2 separate regions of the Homo sapiens genome follow, and region 2 is linked to region 1. Evidence: fine-mapped expression QTL. A gene starts in region 1. The other region holds a variant in brackets. All regions are shown on one strand. Distances are between the middles of the regions.

Region 1 (8,340 bases):
GGTCTGACATACTATAATTTATTAACATTATCAATTTTACTTTTTCAAAATGTCATTTTAGAAGGTGATACACTTATTTTGACAATGTTTCTATCACTTAAAACATTTTTTGAATTCTTTAGAAAATACCTTCTAACCCATTTATCTTTTTTATTGCCAAATTCCTTATATTGTGGTCTCTATTAAATTCATAATTTTAATTTTTACATTCTGTGTCACCCCCTCCTTCTCTGTATTGAGAAGTCCTTGAGGGTGACAGTGGTTATGCTACCTGGTAAGCTGATTTAACTCATATTTAACTGAAAGATATGAGAAATTACCTCATTTAACACGGATATGTCATCTATCTGTAAAATTACTTTAAGTCCTACACAAATGTAGGGCATACTAGATGAAGTAAGAAGACTGAAAAATTAAAACACTGAAGTATTTTCACTCATCACCCTGATAAACATGAAAAAGAATGGCAGTATGCAGTGTTGCCAAGGGTATGAGGAGACAGGCATGTGTCTAGAATGTAGGAATCAGAATATAGTAATGAGAATTAGTATGATCTTTGCAGAGGGCAATTTAACAATAGATATAAAAATCTTCATAACAATAACTCATTCTAGGGATTTATCCTAAAGATATAAATATAAAATATTTGTTCAAAGAGGTTTTATTTAAACTAATGAAAAATGTTAATGTTGTAGAAATATATTTATTAACATAAGCAGTTCACAATTTACTGTAAGAAAAAAAGCAAGCTACAAAACAGTGATTCCATGTTTATATTAAAATAAACATACACAAATTAAAAATTTCCTTAGATATCCATTTAATCTCTGGGATCATAAGCAATGTTTAGGTATTTTTTGCTCATTTATTGCCTAGGTTTTACACAATGAGCATATATGTTAATTGTGTAATTTAAAATTATGGAATTAAGTGCAAGAGTTCCTAACCACCTTTTACAAAACTGTTATGAGAAAATACATTCTAGATTCAAACAAAAACTAAGCAATATATCCCTTATTCTAACAGCTCTAAAATCTGTTCTTCTCATTATACTCCCACCTAAAATCCCACATCCAAAAAGTAGAAATAGCTGCTTCTGAATTCCTGAAAGTATCGGTAGGAGGTTGGGAGGAGAGGGGCCGGGATATGAAGAGAGAAACTGAATATTTGAGGACAGACTGTTCGTGTTTTGAGGGAAACTTTAGGAATAGGGCTTGGCTGAAGGAAGGAGGCTGCGAGGTTCCATGAATAAGTTTCAGCAAAATAGTTTCTCCTCTCACCAGTTTTCCACCTTATTCAGGTGTGCATCCACTGCTACATGCTCCAACCAATTGCTGTTGAGACCCCAGAGACCCCAGCACCACGTGTGATTAGGAAGCGCTTCCATCATTGAAATGGAATAGAGTCTACTTGCTCACAGTAACTCCTGTTTCTATTCCTTTGCTCCTTCCTTAGCAACTTCAGGTCTTTCTTCAGTAAAATTTTTTGCTTTGTAAACCTATTTTTTTTCACCTCCTGTAACATGATATGCTGCCCTTCTACGACCTTTGACATACCAATCATCTCCATCTGAAATACTTCTATCCCTTTCCCAACCCTATCTTGACTAATTTATTTCGTACTCATTTTTATTTTCATTTAGGTGCCACTTCCTCAGGGAATCCGTGAACACAGTGTCCATAACAGATTCCTTCAAGACTTTATCTCAATTAACAAATATATTTTATGCATTATTTAGTAAGGCTATCTACTATCTAGTTGAACCATTAAGTCCCAGGCTCAATGAAAACAGTGCCATTAGCTGGTTTTGCTCAGCATGGTTACTCCTGCATTTGGAACATAGCAAGTGCTCAACAAATATACGCCGAATGAGAGAATGAATGAATGAACAACTGAGTAAACAACTAGCAACCGAGAGGCTTGGTGGGGTAAGAATTACATTAACTATGTCACCTCATGGTGGAACTGTGCACATTTTTTCTTTTGATGGCGGACTTGTGTACTGACAAGACAAAGTTTTAAATAGATACGATTTTGGAAAGTTCCCTTTAAAGCAAAGCCATACAATAAATATTTAATCAGCCAAGAAAAAGGCTGTAGTCTAGCCTGGGGACTTCACAAATGACCCAAATCATGAGAGCCACGTCTCTACAGTGTCTTAGTACTGTATCTTCCTTGAGCAAAGGAACGCACTTGCCCCATCATGGCAAGTTCAGGTACAGAGTGCAAGGAATCTACAGCTTTCCTACCCCGACACAGGTTTAGGTAGGAAAACGCGAGCCTAGGATGATGGGGAGAAAGCGGGCATTTATTCAAAATGTATTTACTGAGCACCTACTGTGTACCAGAAAGCCCTAGTTGTGGGCTGGCTCTGACAGGTCCGCTGTGTAGCTTCGGGCATTTCTCCTTCACAGAGCCCAAGTCCTGAAGGCGAGCAAGTGGGGCCCCGCCTGCCTGCCTCAAAAAGCTGGGCTGGGGATTCCAAGGGCGAGAATGCGCTTCAGAAAGTGCCAGGAGGCACGAAGGCCAGCGGCCCCAAACGGCCTCGCTAACCTCGGCCCGGGCGCGGGGAGCGAGCCCAGGACGGCCGTCCGCTGGCAGCAGAGCCGGGCGGAGGCGGGCGCCCGCCCTCCGAGGGGCCGCGCTTACCCGTCGGGCGAGTACTCGAGGTTGAAGACGGCGCCGTGGGTGCGGGTGCTGAGGTACACCGAGTCCGCGGGGTGGATGGAACCGTAGAGGCTAGTCATGGTGCGAAAATTGTCCCGCGCCGGGTCCACGAACAGCCCGCGGCCCAGGCTGCGCTCTTTCAGCCACCCGAACAGCCTAGCGCCAGGGCCGCCCAGGCCCGCGCCGAGGCCGTGTCGGCCCCGGCTCTTGGCCCTGCAGTCTGGCCCGGGCCGCCGGCACGGAGGGGAGGGAGGTGACGGCTCTCCCGGGGCGGAGGCAGTTGAGGACTCCGGAGCTCCAGGCAGCCCTAGCTCTCCGGAGCGCGGGGCCGGGGACAGCGATGGGGCGCCGGGGCGGCGAGGGCTTCGGGCGGGTGGAGGGGGATGGGTCGCATCAGCCCCGGGATGTAGTGGCGAGGGCGGCCCGGTGGCTGCTGCCTGCCCCTCGTGGGGCGTCGGCTCCTCAGCCCCGGCTCCGGCCGATCCGTCCCCTCCAGGGCTATGGGGCCCAAAGGGAAACATGATCAACGCCCCCGCCCCCCGCTCCGGGCCACTGCCCCGCCGGCCGACACCTCAGTGCCCCTGTTCAGCTGCCACTTCCGGCGTGCAGCGGCCTAACCCCACCGGCTGGAAACCCGCGCCGCCCCTCGGCCACCGTCCGCCGGGGACCGGGAAAGCTGAGACACCGCCGGGTTTGGGGCGCCGCAGTCCCGGGAACGGAGGTAGGGAGCGAGTAGTTACCTGTGTGAGCGACTGAGCATCTGGGCACCTGATCTGGGTGGCAGAGTCGGTCTGTAGTTGTCAGTGACCGGTGGCCGCGTGCCTGGGGATGAGTGGCCTGACCAGTCAGTCCTGTGAGGCTGAGTATGTACTGGTGTCTCCACTTTACACTGGGATCAGCGAGGGATTAAGAATTAGTGCATTACGTGCAGGCCACACACAATAGGTGACATGCCACTCTTTTTTTTTTTTTTTTTTTCCGAGATGGAGTCTCGCGCTGTCGCCCAGGCTGGAGTGCAGTGGCGCGATCTCGGCTCACTGCAACCTCCGTCTCCCGGGTTCAAGCAATTCTCTGCCCCAGCCTCCCGAGCAGCTGGGATTACAGGCGCCCACCACCACGCCCGGCTAATTTTTTGTATTTTTTAGTAGAGATAGGGTTTCACCATCTTGGCCTGGCTGGTCTTGAACCTCGTGATCCACCCGCCTCGGCCTCCCGAAGTGCTGGGATTACAGGCATGAGCCACCGCGCCTGGCCAGCATGCCCAACTCTTAAAGGCACAACAAGTTCAGGGTGACCACAGGCAGCTTCTTCCAAAACCTATTTGTCACAAGGCAAAGGAGAGACTGAGAGGAAACAGGTTTGGATGTGCTACCCAAGGAATGGCTGAGATAGCCAGTCTGTGTATCTGGGCTTAAATGAAAGATGGCAAATAGGTGATAGTTACTTTTCTGGGTCAACTTGACTGGGCTAACAGATGCCCAGATAGCCTGGAAAACCATTATTTCTGTGTGTGCCTGTGAGGGTGTTTCCAGGACAGATTAGCATTTGAATCAATAGAAGATCTGCCCTCACCATTGTGGACAGGCATCATCCTATTCATTAAAGACTGAAAAGGAACAAAAAGGCAGAAGGGTGATTTAACTTTCTCTTAAGTTGGTACATCCATCTCCTGCCCTTAGACATCAAAACTCGGTTCTGCGGGCTTTGGACTTGGGGACTCATCGTCAGTTTTCAGGCCTTCAGTCTTGGACCGGGAGTTATACCATTAGCTCCTCTGATTCTCACACCTTCAGACTCAGACTGAATTACACCACCAGATTTCCTGGTTCTCCAGCTTGCAGACTGCAGATCATGGGACTCCTCTACAATGATATGAACCAATTCCCATATTAAATGTTCTCTTATATCTATATCTCCTATTGGTTCTACTTCTCTGGAGACCCCCTGGATGGGTCCAATCTACTGTAGCAGCCTACTTGCCTGGCATTCACACTCTTCATGTGTATGCCAGCACGTATATTCTACTGAACCCATCCTAGAAGTCCTAGGCTGTCGAATTTTGTAGCTGTTACTTAGCTTTCCTTGCCTACTAGCCGGGGTAGGACAACTATTTGAGTAACCAGGCTATAGATTAGCCACTGGTCCATGAGGCTGCCAGACCAAAAGTCTTTGCCCATACAGACTCATGCTCTTGGGAATTTGAATTGGGAAATCAGAAGTGAGGCAGTTGGCCATGATGGTTGGGATTGAAAAGTCATAAGGCAGAGTGAGGCCGCTGGAGTCCTGAGCAAACCAAAGGAGTAAGAGAAATCATGAGAAAGCAGCAGCCATGAGAGAACAGACTTGGGATAGACGGTGAGAAAGAAAGTTGATGGTAGGAGGAGATACAGATACATAAAAAGAGACAGACTCAGAACAGGTTAGACTTGTTCTTGGCAGAGTCCCCCTAGGGTCTTCCTGCAGAGTCCCTTGAGGTACCAGAATGATGGCTGCTCAATTTCAGTTTCAGTTTCCTGTGGGATGATCACTTGATTTCACAATACCTGAACCAGGACTTATGCACTGACAAAAAGAATCAAGGGCCAGACACAGTGGCTCACACCTGTAATCTCAGTGCTTTGGGAGGCCAAGGTAGGAGGATCTTTTTTTTTTTTTTCAGGGTCTCACTCTGTTGACCAGGATGGAGTACAGTAATACAGTCATGGCTCACTGCAGCCTCAACCTCCCAAGCTCAAGCAGCAGGAAGATCTTTTGAGGGTAAGGAGTTTGAGACCAGCCTGGGCAACATCATGAAACTCTGTCTCTCTATGAAAAATAACAAAATCATTCCGGTGTGGTGATGCATGCTTGTAGTCCTAGCTGCTCGGAAGGCTGAGCCAGGAGGATCCCTTGAGCCCAGGAGTTCAAGGTTACAGTGAGCTGTGATCACCCTGCACTTCAGCCTGTTGCACTTCAGCCTGAGCAACAGAGTGAGACCCCATCTCAAAAATTAAAAAAAAGAATTGGCACTTTGGGAGGCCGAGGCGGGTGGATCATGAGGTCAGGAGATCGAGACCATCCTGGCTAACAAGGTGAAACCCCGTCTCTACTAAAAATACAAAAAATTAGCCGGGCGCGGTGGCGGGCGCCTGTAGTCCCAGCTACTCTGGAGGCTGAGGCAGGAGAATGGCGTGAACCCGGGAAGCGGAGCTTGCAGTGAGCCGAGATTGCGCCACTGCAGTCCGCAGTCCGGCCTGGGCGACAGAGCGAGACTCCGTCTCAAAAAAAAAAAAAAAAAAAAAAAAAAAAAAAAAGAATTGGAATGACAACCAAGAAAACAAATGTGTCCTTTCAACCAGGGAGCCTTCTGTAGCCCAAAGAAAACAATGTACTCAAGGAGTAAAGTGATCCTATCATATAAGCTTATTGAAAAATAAAAAGCAAACATTCATATAATGTTTAGTGTATGCCTAATATTATGCTGAGTAAAGTGATCCTATCATATAAGCTTATTGAAAAATAAAAAGCAAATGTTCATATAATGTTTAGTATATGCCTAATATTATGCTGAGTTAAGTGATCCTATCATATAAGCTTATTGAAAAATAATAAGCAAACATTCATATAATGTTTAGTATGTGCCTAATATTATGCTAAGCTGGTTCATATATATTAACTCAAAACTCAAGGTATGTTGGTACGATTATTATCCCCATTTTAGAGATGAGAAAACACAGACACAAAAAAGAAAAGTCAGCCTGAGAGTGGTAAAGCCAGGATTCAAATCCAGGCAATCTAGCTCCAGGTTCCATGCTCGTAACCAGGTGCTACACACACATTTGTAGATTGGCTTGGATCTATAGCTATCGCTGTACATACAAGCTCCTTGCCAAGGATGGCAACTCAATAGTATTTTTTAAAAACCTCCAAATCTAAGCCAATCTACAAATATCAGGTCTGGCTCCCCTTTTCTTCTGAACACTTTTAAATTCTGAACCTTTGAATAACTGTAATCCCATGAAAAAGAACAACTTCCATTTGTTGAGTAAGTGCTTCACCAGGCTTATTGGTAGGAGCTTTGCAAGCATTGTCTCTAAATTTCCCTTTACTGGGGGCAGCCATAACTTGGCAACTACGAGGAAATGCAAGCTCAGTATTGCCACAGCTACAGATTTTTCAAAAAATGCCACATGTGGAAGTTCAAAATGAGGCCTGCTGTGGGCTCAATGATGCCACAAGAAATAGGACATAGGATGATATACCTAACACAGCAAGGAGATGCCTTGTGTGGCCATCAGTAGATCTTTGAGAAAAGACAGAGTCACTCTGTTTTACAGGCGTGAGCCACTGTGCCCAGCCTCATATTCTCTTTATTTAAGAAGATACCGGAGGTTATGGACCTCTAGCAAAATGGACAGGTAAAGCAAGAAAGTGGAATAAAAGTGATCTAAGTGGATCTAAGAAGGAGAGCAGTGCAGGAAGGTATAAAAGACAGGTGTACAAAAAGGGAGGGAAATATGACACATGCTACAACGTGTATGAACCTTGAGAATATTATGCCAAGTGAAATCAGCCAGTCACGAAAGGATATATATACTGTATGTTTCCACTTCTATGCAGTACCTAGAGTCGTCAAATTCACAGAGACAGAAAGAAGAATGGTGGATGCCAGGCACTAGGGTGAGGTGGGGATGGGGAGGTATTGTTTCATGGGTACAGAATTTCAGTTTTGCAAGATGAGAAGAGTTCTGGAGATGGATGGTGGTGATGGCTGCACAACAGTATGAATACACTTAACACTGTGTATGTACTGAATGTACATGTAAAAATTGTTAAGATGATAAATTTTGTTATGCATATTTTACCACAATTAAAGAAAAGACAGCTGTGCAGCAGGCCTGAAGAGCAGCCCCCCCAAAGTGGGAGGAGCACAGAGTGGGAAGTCTCCAGAGGAAAAATGGAAATGGAATGTTGCAATCTATTAAGGCGAGGCAAAAGACTCCAATGCCAGAATAGTGGAAGAAATTAACAAAGTATATAGAATAACAAACAATGGACTGAAACGAGGCAATCACCAACTCCATGAAAAATAAAGGATTGCATAAAATGTACAATCTGTCAAGGCAGATAACAATATTTGCACTGGTAATATTGTAAAAAATGGCTTCTGATTTAACCAGAAATTGTGCTGTAACTATGCCGTGTGTTAGCAAAGCGTGGAGAGGGAGGGATGAAGAGTGTGGAAATAGGAAGAGCCAAAACCACATCTACCTTGTCAGGAAGTCAACACATTCTCTTAAAATTAAGAAATCAAGCAATATCAGTGTATTATATTTAAACATTGAGGTAAAATAGCAGAGAAAAGAGCTGTAGATGAAGGTGGTTGTCTTTTCGGATGGGAACTGGAGGGTGCAATGGGTAGGAATTTTTTCATCTTCTCAAACTGAAATTCGTATACTTAGGCATGAAGTCCCATTTCCACCCTTCAACCCCCACTCCCAAGCACCTGGCATCCCCTGCTCTTTTTCAGAAGCCTTGTAGACTCAAAATTACCTGCACTATTTAGGCGAAAACTAAAAGTGGATATTTTCTAAGGTGTAAGTCATGTTACTGTTTTTCCTCAGGTATACTGTTTTCAGCCTAGAGCAAAAGTAAACTTTTAAGTGGTCTCTGCAGGGATATCTGACATTAAAT
Region 2 (8,340 bases), 51 kb before region 1:
GTGATGACGGTTAATAGTAAGATACAGTATATTATAAAATAGCTAGAAGAGCGACTGTTACATGTCCTTACCACAAAGGAATGATAAGTGCATGCTAATACTGATTTGCTCATTATACAACATATATGTGTCAAGACATCAAATTGTACCCTGTAAATATGTGCAGTTACAATGTGTCAATTAAAAAATATTTGAGGCCAGGCATGGTGGCTCATGCCTGTAACCCCAGCACTTTGAGAGACCAAGGCAGGAGGATTGCTTGAGCCTAGGAGTTCAAGACCATCCTGGGCAAGATGGTGACCCCATCTCTACAAAAATTTAAAAAATTAAAATAAATTAGCTGAGTGTGGTGGTGTGCACTCATAGTTCCAACTACTCAGGAGGCTGAGGTGGGAGGATCACGCGAGCCTGGGAGTTTGAGGCTGCAGTGAGCTATGATCACACGACTGCACTCCAGCCTGGGTGACAGACAGACAGACCCTGTCTCTATTCAAAAAAAAAAAAATTGAAACTTCAAAAATGAGATGTCTTTCCAATAAATTTTACTTTTTATGTTAATAATTATTATTTAAAATAATACATGTTGTTTTAATCAATTGTGGACTAATAATATTGTAATGATCATTAAATCCAGAAGAAATGTAACACTAATAGCCCTGTGGTCACAGAAAACAATTTTTAAAATTAATGTCAGTTTACGTGCATATTTTTGATGCCAATAAGAATGATCAGTAGGCTAGGGGTGGTGGCTCACACCTGTAATCCCAACACTTTGGGAGGCTGAGGCGTGAGGACAGATGGAGCCCAGGATTTCAAGACCAACCAGGGCAACATAGCAAGACCCTGTCTCTACAAAAAATAAAAAGTTAGCTGGAGACTGAGGTGCGAGGATGGTTTGAGCCTGGGATGTGGACGGTGCAGTGAGCCATGATTGCGCCACTGCACACCAGCCTGAGCATATAACAGGATATAATTCTATGAGAAAATATAATGAAAATGAGTACCAGAAGAAAAAGTTGTAAAACTTCCAGCTGTTAAAAAAAATAGAATTTACAGTCAATGTATATTGAGATTTACATACATGCTTAACAATCTTTTTGCTCATCATTCCTTCGTTCATCTCCAAAATTCCTTTTTTGATCCTTTCTTTCTGAAGTATATCCCTCAGAATTTTTTTTTTTTTTTTTTTGAGATGGAGTTTTGCTCTTGTCGCCCAGGCTGGAGTGCAATGGTACTGTCTCAGCTCGCTGCAACCTCTGCCTCTCGGGTTCAAGCGATTCTCCTGCCTCAGCCTCCCAAGTAGCTGGGATTACAGGCACGCACCACCACACCCATGCCTGGGATTACAGGCATGAACCACCATGCCCGGCCAGAATTTTTTAAAGTTAGACTTTGTTGAGGTAAATGCTCTCGCTTTTTATTGTTCTGAAAATCTTTTTTTTTTTTTTTTGAGACGGAGTTTCACTCTTGTTGCCCAGGCTAGAGTGCAATGGCGCGATCTTGGCTTACTGTGAACTCCGCCTCCTGGGTTTAAGCGATTCTCCTGCCTCAGCCTTTAAAAAAAATAAAATTTTTTAATGGTGTACATGATGTTTCAAATATGTATATATTGTGGAATAGCTAAATCAAGCTAATTTATATATATATATATATATATATATATATATATATAACCTCACATACTTAACATTTATGATGATAACACTTAAAATCTACTTTTAACAAATTTCAATTATATATAATAACAACAGTAAATTGTCATTAACAGTGGTCATCATGTTGTACAATATACATCTCCCAAGTAGCTGGGATTACAGGCACCTGCCACCACATCCAGCTAATTTTTCACATTTTTAGTAGAGACGGGGTTTCACCATGTTGGCCAGGCTGGTCTCAAAATCCTGACCTCTGGTGATCCACCGCCTTGGCCTACAAAAGTGCTGGGATTATAGGCGTGAGCCACCATGCCCAGCCTGTTCTGAAAATCTTTATTTCACTCTTTTAAGAGACTGGGTCTCCCTCTGTTGCCCAGGCTGGGGTGCAGTGGCATAATCATAGCTCACTATAACCTCAAATTCCCAGGCTCAAGGAATCTTCCCACTTCAGCCTTCCGAGTAGCTGGAACTACAGGTGTGCACCACCACTCCTGGCTAATTTTTAAATTTTCTGTAGAGATGGGGTCTTGCTGTGTTGCCCAGGCTAGTCTTGGAACTCCTGGTCTCAAGTGATCCTCCCACTTCAGCCTCTCAAAGTGCTGAGATTATAAGTATGAGCCACTATGCCCAGCTCAACTCATCTTATTGAATAAAGGTTTAGCTTAGCATATAATTTTAGGTCGTTGTTTCCTTCTGAATATTTAGGATAATTTTCCACAGAGTTCTATTTTCCATTGTTACTATTTGTGAGTCTGCTATTAGTCTGACTATTACTTTGCGTAATTTATCTTTTTTCCCCCCTCTGGTGAATCTTCTCTCTGTCTTTAGAGTACTGCAATTTCACTGGTATATGTAAATTTGGATCTCTTTTTATTTATCTTTACTGGGATTCATTTGACTTTCCAAGTCTTAAGATTCGTATTATTCATATATTCTGAAAGTTTCTCAGTCATTATTCCAATATTGCCTCTCACTGATTTTCCCTATTCTTTTAGAGCTCCAAATATATGTATGAAACATTCATGTTTGACTCTCCTTTTCTTATAACTTGCTTCTTTATATTTTCTATCTTTTCATTTCAGTATCTTTTTCATATTATATTCTGGGTAACTTTTCAATATCTATTTTCATATATATTTATTTATTTATTTATTTATTTTGAGACAGAGTCTTACTCTGTCGCCCAATGCAGTGGCATGATCTTGGCTCACTGCAACCTCTGCCTCCCAGGTTCAAGCGATTCTCCTGCCTCAGCCTCCCGAGTAACCGGGATTACAAGCGCCTGCCATCACGCCCAGCTAATTTTTGTATTTTTAGTAAAGATGGGGTTTTACCATGTTGACCAGGCTGGTCTCAAACTCCTGACCTCAAGTGATCCACCCGCCTCGGCCTCCCAAAGTGCTGGGATTACAGGTGTGAGCCACTGTGCCCAGGCAGTTTATGCCCTTTATTTTAAAATTTGCTTATTGGCTAGGTGCAGTGGCTCATGCCTGTAATCCCAGCACTTTGGGAGGCCGAGGTGGGAC[G/A]ATCACTTGAGCCAGAAGTTAGAGACCAACACGGGCAACATAATGAGACACTGTCTCTATGAAAAAATGCAAAAGTAGCCAGGCAGAGTGTCACACCTGTGGTCCCAGGTACTTGAGAGGCTGAGGTAGGAGGATGGCTTGAGCCCAGGAGGACAGGGTGGTAGTAAACTATGATTGTGCCACTATATTCCACTCTGTCGCTCAAGCTGGAGTGCAGTGGCACAATCTCGGTTCACTGCAGCCTCCTCCTCCCAGGTTCAAGCAATTCTCCTGCCTTAGCCTCCCAAGTAGCTGGGATTACAGGTGTGTGGCACCACACCCGGCTACTCTTTGTATTTTCAGTACAGACAAGGTTTCACCATGTTGGCCAGGCTGGTCTCGAACTCCTGATCTCAAATGATCCACCCGCCTTGGCCTCCCAAAGTGCTGGAATTAGAGGCATGAGCTACCGCACCAGGCCTAAAAAAATGAGTTTTTTTAATGGTGTACATGATATTTGAAATATGTATATATTGTGGAATGGCTAAATCAAGCTAATTTATATATATATATATATATATATATATATATATATATATATATATATATATATATAAAATATATCCTCACATACTTAGCATTTATGATGATAAAACTTAAAATCTACTTTTAACAAATTTCAATTATATATAATAACAACAGTAAATTGTCATTAACAGTGGTCATCATGTTGTACCTTATAAATCTCTTGAACTTTTATTCCTCCTAACTGAAATGTTGTATTTTTTGACCAAAGTTTCCCCCAACTGTACTCCACCCACCTGTCCCCAGTCCCTGGTAACCACCATTCTACTATCTGCTTCTATGAGTTTTTGACTTTTTTAGATTCTACATGTAAGTGATATTTGTCTTTCTGAGCCTGGCTTATTTTGTTTAATATAATGTCCTCCAGGCTCATTCGTATTGTCGCAAATGACAAAATTTCCTTCTTTCTTAAGGCTGAATAGTATTTTGCTGTGTATATTACAACATTTTTAATCCATTCATTCATTGATGGACGTTTAGGTTAACTCCATATCGTGGCTACTGTGAATAGTGCTGCAATGAACATGAGAGTGCAGATATCTTTTTGACATAGTGATTTAATTTCCTTTGGATATATACCTAGTAGAAGGATTGTTGGATTTATATGGTAGTTCTATTTTTAAGTTTTTGAGGAACCTCCCTACTGTCTTCCATAATTTATATCTAATGACCTTTGTTAAATCTTACTAATTCTGATAATTTCTCTGAGGAATTTGTAAGATTTTCTATATAGAACAGGGAGTAGAAAACTTTGGCCTATGGGCCAAATTTGGCCCACTTTTATCTATTTTATGTTTTAAAGACAGGGTGTCAATCTCTTGCCCAGCCTAGAGTGCAGTGGTGCAATCATGGCTCACTGAAACCTTGAACTCCTGGGCTCAAGGGGTCCTCCTGTCTCGCCCTCTTGAGTACCTGGGACTACAGGCACACACGGCCACACCTGGCTAATGTTTTAAATTTTTTGTTGTTGTTGTTGTTGAGATGGAGTCTTGCACTGTTGCCCAGGCTGGAATGCAGTGGTGCGATCTCGGCTCACTGCAACCTCCGCCTCCCAGGTTCAAGCGATTCTCCTTCCTCAGCCTCCTGAGTAGCTGGGATTACAGGCACCTGCCACACCTGGCTAATTTTTTTGTATTTTTAGTAGACACGGGGTTTCACTATATTGGTCAGGCTGGTCTCGAACTCCTGACCTCATGATCTGCCCACCTCAACCTCCCAAAGTGCTGGGATTACAGGTATGAGCCACCGTGCCTGGCCATGTTTTAAAATTTTTTTAGAGATGAGGTCTCACTATGTTGCCCAGGTTTGTCTCAAACTCCTGGGCTCACACAGTCCTCCCACCTTGGCCTCCCAAAGTGATGGGATTATAGGCATGAGCCACGGTGCCTGACCACTGCCTGGTTCTATAAAGAAAGTTTGTATAAACACAGCCACATCTATTCATTTATGTATCATCTATGACAGCTCAGAGACCATGTAGTACACAAAGCCTAAAATATGTACTACCTGGTCCTTTACAGAAATAGTTTGCCAACGCCTGATATATCATCTGTGAATAATAGTGTTTTCTTCTTTCCAATCCATATATAATTGTTTTCTTCCTTCTTTTATTGCACCAACTAGTACCCTCCCCCGCTTCACCCACCCCATGACACTGATGAACAGTAGTGGTAACAGTGAGCAAGCTCTCCTTCCAGATTTTAAGGAGAAATCTTCTTAAGGTTCACCATTTTAAAATGTGCTATAATTTTTTAGTATATACTTTTGATAAATTTCCTTCTATCTCTAGTTAATTAATGATTCAGGAGTTTCATTGAGGTATAACTTACATGCCATAAAACTCACTCATTTTAGGTGTAAATTAAGTTTTTTTTTTTTTTTTTTTGAGACAGAGTCTCGCTGTGTCGCCCAGGCTGGAGAGCAGTGGCGTGATCTTGACTCACTGGAACCTCCACCTCCTGGACTCAAGCAATTCTCCTGCCTCAGCCTCCTGAGTAGCTGGGATTACAGGTGCCCACCACCACGCCCTGCTAATTTTTGCATTTTTAGTAGAGACGGGATTTCACCATGTTGGCCAGGCTGGTCTCAAACTCCTGACCTCAGGTGATCCACCCTCCCTCGGCCTCCCAAAGTGCTGGGATTACAGGTGTGAGCCACCATGCCAGGCCGCAATTAAGTAATTTTTTAGTAAATTTACAGAGCTGTGCAATCATCAACACAATCCAGTTTTAGAACATTTTCATCACCTTAAGAGATTCCTCCTGCCCATTAGCAATCACTTTCTGTTCCCACTCTCAGCTCCAGGCAACCACTAATCAACTTTCTGTCTCTATAGATTTACCTATTCTAGATATTTCATATAAATAGAATCGTACAGTAAGTAGTCTTTTGCAAGTTGGCTTTTTTCACCCAGCATAATTTTTTGAGGTTCATCCATGTCATAGCATGTATCAATTATTTGTTCGTTTTCATTGCTAAATAGAATTCTGTTGCATACATCCACCACATTTTGTTTATCTATTTACCACTTGCTGGATATTTGGATTGGTTCCATTTTTGCTTATTATGAGTGCTACTATAAATATTCATGTACAAGTCTTTGTGTGGCCATATATGTTCATTTCTCTTGAATAGATATCTAGGAGTGGAATTGGTGGATCATATGGTAACTCCATGTTTAACATTTTATGAAACTGCCAAATTGTTTTCTAAAGTGGCTATTCCATTTTACATTCCCACCAGCAATGTGGGTTTCAGCAATCAGGGTTCCAGTTTCTCCATATTCTTGCCAATACTTGTTATTAATTAATAATATGGAGTCTTCGAATCCATGAACATGGACTATCTCCCCATTTATTTACAACTTCTTATATTCCCTTTAGCAATGTTTTATAGATTTCAGTGTACAAATCTCATACCTCTTTTGTTAATTTTATTCCTATGTATTTTACCCTTTTTGATGCTATTGTGAATTAAATTATTTTCTTCATTCATTTTTGGATTGTTCATTGCTTATAAGTAGAAATACAATTGATTGTATATCTTGTGAATTTACTAAACTTGTTTATTAGGTCTAGTGGATTTCTTGGTAGGTTCCTTACTATTTTCTGTATACAGAAACATATTTCCTGCATATGAAGACAGTTTACGTCTTCCTTTCTATTCTGAATGCCTTTTCTTTTTTTTACCTGATTGCACCTCCAGTGCAATGTTGCACCTCCAGTATAATTTCAAAAAAAAGTGGTGAGAGCCTTGCTTCCCATCTTAGGGGGAATGCATTCAGTCTTTCAATGTTAAGCAAGATTCTTAGCTTTTGAATACATTCCCTTTTATGCCTAGTTTTATCACAAAGAGATTTTGTCAAGTGCTTTTCTGTCTTGATTATCATATGGGTTTTGACCTTTATTAGTATAATGTATTACATTAACTGATTTTGGGAGTTAAACCAACCCTGTATTCCTGGGATAAATTCCACTTGGTGATGACATAAAAATGTTTATATATATTGTTAGATTTGCTAATATTTTGTTGAGGATTTTTCCATCCTTTTTTTTTTTAGGAATATTTGTGGTTTCTATTCTTTTTTTTTTTTTTTTTTTTTTTTGAGATGGAGTTTCACTCTTGTGCCCCAGGCTGGGGTGCAATGGTGTGATCTTGGCTCACTGCAACTTCCACCTTCTGGGTTCACATGATTCTCCTGCCTCAGCCTCCTGAGTAGCTGAGATTACAGGCATGCACCACCACACCCAGCTAATTTTGTATTTTTAGTAGAGGTGGGGTTTCACCATGTTGGCCAGGCTGGTCTTGAACTCCTGACCTCAAGTGATCCACCCGCCTTGGCCTCTCAAAATGCTAGGATTACAGGCATGAGCCACCACACCCAGCCCTGTAGTTTCTATTCTTATGGTGTCTGTCTGGTTTTGGTATCAGGATAATAGTAGACTCAAAGCATGAGTTGGAAAATATCCTGTCTCCTCTATATTCTGGAAGAGTTTGTGAAGGACTGTTATTATTTACTATGTAAATATTTGGTAGAATTAATCAGTGAAGCCATTTGATTCTGGGCTTTTCACTGTGGGAGTATTTTTAAATTACCAATTCAGGCCAGTCACAGTGGCTAACACCTGTAATCCCAGCACTTTGGGAGGCCGAGGTGGGCAGATCACTGAGGTCAGGAGTTTGAGACCAGCCTGACCAACATGGTGAAACCCTGTCTCTACTAAGAATACAAAAATTAGCCAGGGGTGGTGGTGGATGCCTGTAATCCCAGCTACTTAGGAGGCTGAGGCAGGAGGATCACTTGAACCTGGGAAGCAGAGGTTGCAATGACTCCATCTTAAAAAAAAAATTACCAATTCAATATCTTTACTTGCTGTAGGTCTATAAGTCAATAGATTTTCTATTTATCTTAAGTCAATTTCAGTAATTTGTGACTCCTTAGGTGTCTATCTGTTCATCTGTGTTGCCTAATTTGTTGCCATAAAGTTGCTCATAGTACTCCTTATTAATCCTTTTAATTTCTGTAAGGTTGGTTATGATATCTCCTCTCTTTTGTTTTTAATTATGACTAAATGTTGAATCTTATTCCTCATTTG

Evidence for each region. PIP is the estimated chance that this variant, and not a neighbour inherited with it, causes the effect.
Region 2: its variant is fine-mapped to the expression of DCAF10 in whole blood (TOPMed, PIP above 0.99).

The regions. Positions count from the first base shown.
Region 1 is chr9:37,795,715-37,804,054 of GRCh38, reverse strand. It overlaps DCAF10 (DDB1 and CUL4 associated factor 10), which reads right to left and starts at 3,258. Exons shown (of 7, transcript NM_024345.5): 1 at 2,650-3,258. The coding sequence starts at 3,188. LOC105376037 (a long non-coding RNA gene) reads left to right here and starts at 3,164. Exons shown (of 3, transcript XR_929599.3): 1 at 3,164-3,388; 2 at 5,327-5,424. RefSeq lists enhancers at 2,127-2,176, 3,128-3,729 and silencers at 2,487-2,546, 2,767-3,286.
Region 2 is chr9:37,846,263-37,854,602 of GRCh38, reverse strand. The region is part of intron 3 of DCAF10 (DDB1 and CUL4 associated factor 10); the gene reads right to left. Among named protein-coding and RNA genes, the nearest start is that of DCAF10, 50 kb to the right of the region's middle. The variant G/A (reference allele first, on the strand shown) is at 3,182.